2 separate regions of the Homo sapiens genome follow, and region 1 is linked to region 2. A link means that fine-mapping ties the variant in region 2 to the expression of a gene that starts in the linked region. Tissue or cell type: whole blood. Region 2 holds a variant in brackets; the other region holds the start of a gene. All regions are shown on one strand. Distances are from middle to middle.

Region 1 (2,673 bases), 50 kb before region 2:
ACCTCCCCAAGTCCTAGAATTGCAGGCATGGGCTGCTGGGCCTGGCCTTTTCTCCTGTCTTGGGAGGCTGGGACCAGTCTTCCTGGAAGTACCCAAGGCCCTCCTGCAGACCATGGTGACATTTCCAGGAAAGACCCAGAAGCTCGGAGCTGAAGCCAGGGCAGCCAGGACTGTCGGGGAGCCCTGGACACTGGCTGTCTGAGAGCGCTTGGTCAGCTGGCACCTGCCATGTGGTGGACGTGGGGCTGCAGAGACCCCACGGCTGGGCTTCTCTCGCCTGAGAGCAGGCCCAGCCACAGGCTACCTCCCACAGGGCCCCCTGAGACCACACGGCCTGCAGCAGCTCCCCCAGGCCCCCTCCCCCTGCCCGGGCAGCACTCAGCGCTGCATCTCCATCTGCTCACTCAAGTCGAAGGGCCTGGGGGTTGGTGCCTCCATCTTGTTCTGCTGGGGGCCTCCAGCATCTAGAGCAGGAAGGTGTGCGGAAGAAAACCACTCATGCAGGGAGAGGGGGACCTCCCAGTCCAGGCCCTGCTGCTGACCCTTTCCCTGAACACCAACCTATGGCCTCCAGGCTGGGGCCCCTTGAAGGACGGTGGGCCACTCGGGTGGCCTGGGTTCAGGGCCGGGCTCCACAGCTGAGTTCTGGAGGGAGGGCACAGACGACTGGGGGCTGGGAGGGGCCAGGTGAGGGGTAGGAACAGCCAGGGAGCCCTGCAGGAGGGGTGCCCAGCATAGCCCCAAAGCTGCTGGGGCTGGGCAGGGCAGAAACTGCCAAGGAGTCCCAGAGCCCTGAGTGGCGTCTGGCGAGGGCCCCTGACCCTGATCTCTGTAGACCCCACTCCTTCCGTGAGGGTGGCAGCCACTCCAGGGCCCAGCAGGGCCAAGGGAGAGGCAAGTGGCCTGGGCCCATGGGGCACTGGGCACAGCCAAGTGTGGCACCAGGGTGCCTGGGCGGCTGCTGCCACCACGTGGCCGACTTTGAGGTCGCAGAGCCCGGGGTCCAGGCAGGAAAGCCCCTCAGCTGCCCCCAGGGCCCTGGCCCAGGCCCCTGAGGCCCAAGTGAGCCACCTGGACTTTGTCACTTCGCCTCTGGTTTCTTGGTTAAGGAGCTTGAGTTCCCCGCCTTTTGTAAAGAAACGGTGGTGGCGACGGCGGATTTCAAGCTTTATTTACTCCTGGAATGGTCCTGGGAGGAGAGGCGGCTCCGCAGAGCCGGAAACGGGGGCGGGAGCTGTTGGGTGCAGCCGGGAGGAGGCAGTGCCGGGGCGGGCCGGGCAGCCATCGGGGTAACGGAGGGGGCTCCGGCCCGGGGGCTGCCCGGACGGGAAAGGGGACACGGGCGGGGCTCCCCCACCTGGGCCCCCCACCCTCACGCCAGGCCCCCCTGTGCGGTGCAGGACGAAGGAACCCTGGCCTCAGTTTCCCTACAGGCTGGGATCAGGGCCCCTGGGGTTCCGACTGTCTCGGAGGGGGGCGGCCTCGCTGCAGAGGTCTGGAGGCGGGGCCGGGGCGGGGGCGGGGCCTGGAGGGGCGGGGGCGGGGCTTGCGCTCACTTCCGCCCGGCGCGGGCTTGGATGGAGGCGGCGCGGAGGCCGCGGCTGGGGTTGAGCCGCCGGAGGCCGCGCCCGGCGGGCGGGTGAGGCCGGGAGCCGGGCGGGGGCGCGGCCGGTTTTCCCGCTCCCACGTGCTTCCCGGCGCCCCCGCGGGCCTCCCGCTCTATTCTCCCCCTGGGGAGGGCTCCCTGCCCCCGGGCCCGGCCCCCACGCCCGTCGCCCCACCCCGCGCCGCCATTCAGCGCCCGCCTTGAGCCCCCACCCCACGCCGAGCTTCCCCCGCGCCGCCCCAGGCCCTCCCGCGCCTCTCCCATCATCGCGTCTCCCCTGAGCACCCCCCATCTAACCCTCTACCTTCCCCAGGCCCTCCGCAATCTCCCCAACCATCGCCTCATCCCGCTGAGGACCCCATATTTCCACCCACCCACCCCGCTCCCCCACCCCCAGTACCCCTCATCTCCGCACTGTCTGCCCCAGCAGCCCTTCCCCCAACCCTGCCGGCCACCTCCCGCACCATCGAATTTCCCTCTAGTACCCCCCATCTCCCCGCTCTCTCTGCCCCAGGCCCTCCCGGGTCTCCCCACCATAGCGTTTCCGCTACTGAGTACCCCCTGTCTGCCCTCTCTGTCTGCCCCAGGCCTTCTGGCGGCCGCCCCTGGTTTCTCCTGGGGGGTGATGAGCGGGAGCGGCTCTGGGCCGAGCTACTGCGCACGGTGAGCCCGGAGCTGATCCTGGATCACGAGGTGCCTTCACTGCCCGCCTTCCCAGGACAGGTGTGCCCACTGGGCCCATCTTAGCGATGAAGGGGTTTCCAGGGCGGGAGCCATCGCTGGGCAAGGCCCAACAACTCTGTGTTGCAGGAGCCCAGGTGCGGCCCGGAGCCCACTGAAGTCTTCACTGTCGGACCCAAGACCTTTTCCTGGACACCCTTTCCGCCGGACCTGTGGGGCCCGGGCCGTTCCTACCGGCTGCTTCACGGGGCAGGAGGGCACCTGGAATCCCCCGCCAGGTCCCTGCCCCAGCGCCCGGCACCTGATCCCTGCAGGGCCCCCAGGGTGGAGCAGCAGCCGTCTGTGGAGGGTGCCGCGGCCCTGCGCAGCTGCCCCATGTGCCAGAA
Region 2 (2,673 bases):
CCAGCAGCCTCCAGGGAGGGCCAGCTCACCCTGCTCATCTCTGCCGGGGATTGAGAGGAGGCCCTGGAGAGCCTCATCCCCAGCCCCAGGGAAGGGTGGCCAGGCTTGAAGACAATGACCCCTGCAGAGCAGATGGGACTGAGAAAGGACTCGTGGCTAGAAGGCAGAGGTGAGCAGGGTGAGGTGATGCCCAGGCTCTACCCGGCCGGAAGAAAGCAGCGCCTACTTCCATCTGTCTCCTCGGAAGGAAGGTCGGCGTCCTCGTTCTTGTCGTCTACTGGAGGCTCTTGGGAAGGCATGACAGAATCCTGCCGGAGAGACACAGAGATGGCAGCATGACCAAGTGCTAGAGCAGGTGTTACAATGTAGCTTCTGTAAACACTTTGTGACTTTTTAAAATTAAGAACTTTTTTTTACAGACAGGGTCACAGTCTGTCATCATCCAGGCTGGAGAGCAGTGGCGCGATCACGGCTCACTGCAGCTTCAACCTCCTGAGCTCGAGCAATCCTCCCGCCTCAGCTTCCAGAGCAGCGGGCACTACAGGTGCGCACCACCATGCCTGGCTAATTTTTGTATTTTTTTTGTAGAGATGGGGTCTCACCATATTGCTCAGGCTGGTCTTGAACTCCTGGCCTCAAGTGATCTTCCCACCTTGGCCTCCCAAAGTGTTGGGATTACAGGTGTGAGCCTCTGCACCTGGCCACTTCAAGACTATTTATGATTTACATATTTACACATTACAATGGGTATACTGTAATATAGTATATAAAAATCTAATTGTTATGCTATTTTACTGAATTAGATAAAGAACATAAACATTACCTATGATTCTGCAGACGGAGGTGGCCACTCGGTACTGCAGGCCATGACCTTTCCACCAAGTGCTTTATACAACGGGATATTTTGCACAATGCTTGGTCATCTCCCCTGTCCCAAAGCTGCATCCTGTCAGTAACCAAGCATCAGGGGGCCATTCTAAGGGCCTCTGGGTTCCGCCTGCAGATATGTCATAATGGAGCCACCAGTACTGGTGGTCAGCTGGGTGGCAGGCTCTGGCCTCCCTCCGCCTCTAGCTGACCACATTTCTGGGGCCGGTCTCATTTGCTTACGCTAAAGTGGACCTATGAGGTCAAAGGGCATTACAGGCTTTTTGGCAGATGCAGCTGAAGGACCTCTGGAAGGACTGTGCCAACGCATGCACCAGCCTGCGTGGTCCCCCATCCCTGTGGCTGGTGATCCTGGGGTGACACCCTGATCCAGACTCTGTCTTTATCCCGTAACAGAGGAGAGGGCACGTCACTGCCACAGGCGCCTTTCCTCCCATGCCACAGCAAGATGCAGACAAGCCACCCTCCCCAGACACACCCACTGCACGCTGCAGCAGGGCCCAGGGAGTTGAATGTTCAGTCCAGGCCTCACCCCCGTGGTTCAGTGGGATGCAGGGGGCCACACGGAAATGCCAGAGGCAGCCTTCAATAAGCAAAAGTCAATAAGGCCCCCAAAGGCCTGGATGCTTCAAGTCCAAGCACTCGGGGATGGCGGAGGGAAGGTGCCGCCCTCATCACAGGCTGGGCATGGCTTCCCAG[G/A]GGGGATGCCAGGGAGAGGCTCCAGATGTTCGGAGCCTCAGCGTGCCCAATGCTACTAGGTCAGACCTGGCTTTCACCTCCACAGTCCTTAAGAGCTGGTTCAAGACTGGGGTATGAATGAACCTTACCTCCGACCCACTGAGCAGAGCGTACCACGTCCTACCTGAGCCTGCTGCCTGAGCCTCATGCCCCAATGAGCAGAGTGTGCCGGGGGCTTGTGGGGGCTCAGGAAGATGGGTCCTATCCAAGACTGCCGCCTGAGTCTCACGCTGCAGCCCAGAGCTAGGACGGCACCACGGCCCCTCTTGAAGAACCCAGGGTCACCAAGGTCTGCTTGGACAATGGGCTGGCTGCCACGCCCCGACCCCGCCCGTGCCCCCCGGGCCTCCCCAGCCCTGCCACTCACCATATGCTTCCTGCAGGTCAGCGGGACGAGGCCGTGGCAGCGCTTATGGACCAGCAGTTTGCAGTTGATGCACCTGTAGCCTTGCCTCGCGAGGCCCCATATCCTCTCGCTGCACTGACCGCAGTACGCTCTCTGCAGGTGGGAACAGAGCGTCAGGCCCAGGCCACACTGAGGGGCCAGCGGAGAGGACAGGCAGGGCCTTCCACACCTATACCTTCTCAAAAGAGGACACTGAGCCGGGCAACAGGTGGCCCCGGCACCTTGTCCCTTCCGGGCGCCAGGCTTGCCCAAGCTTGAGAGCCTCCTCTTGGGTCTATCCCAAGGTTGGGGGAACCAGTGGCCCCAAGGAGAGGCCTGGAACCCTGCTCTGCATGAGGGGACACAGGGGAGGTGCCATCGGGCAGGGGTGACGAGGTGCTGCTTCAGGCAAGGCCCCGTGGCTTGCAGGGGCTGGGGGGCTGCAGCTCCTGCTGCGCTCTGCGTAGAGCAGCCTGGGGTCCCGTCTAGGGCTAAGCAGAGTGTGTGGGGGTACCCCCTGCCTGACCTTCATTCAAACAGAACCTCCTCCTGACAGCCTCAGAGAAGGGGAACTCGGACTCATGAACATCTTGAACTGCTACATGGCAGCCTGCAATTATCTTAGTATTCTTTGTTCAGTATTTTTCAAGATTTTAAATGAT

What was found. PIP is the estimated chance that this variant, and not a neighbour inherited with it, causes the effect.
Region 1: FAAP20 starts here. The variant in region 2 is fine-mapped to the expression of FAAP20 in whole blood (TOPMed, PIP above 0.99).

The regions. Positions count from the first base shown.
Region 1 is chr1:2,193,654-2,196,326 of GRCh38, reverse strand. It overlaps FAAP20 (FA core complex associated protein 20), which reads left to right and starts at 1,555. Exons shown (of 4, transcript NM_182533.4): 1 at 1,555-1,639; 2 at 2,194-2,329; 3 at 2,417-2,673. The coding sequence starts at 1,578. RefSeq lists an enhancer at 1-587 and silencers at 1,221-1,700, 1,711-1,800.
Region 2 is chr1:2,143,662-2,146,334 of GRCh38, reverse strand. PRKCZ (protein kinase C zeta) reads right to left here. Exons shown (of 18, transcript NM_002744.6): 6 at 1,994-2,125; 7 at 227-308. Among named protein-coding and RNA genes, the nearest start is that of PRKCZ-AS1, 39 kb to the left of the region's middle. The variant G/A (reference allele first, on the strand shown) is at 1,588.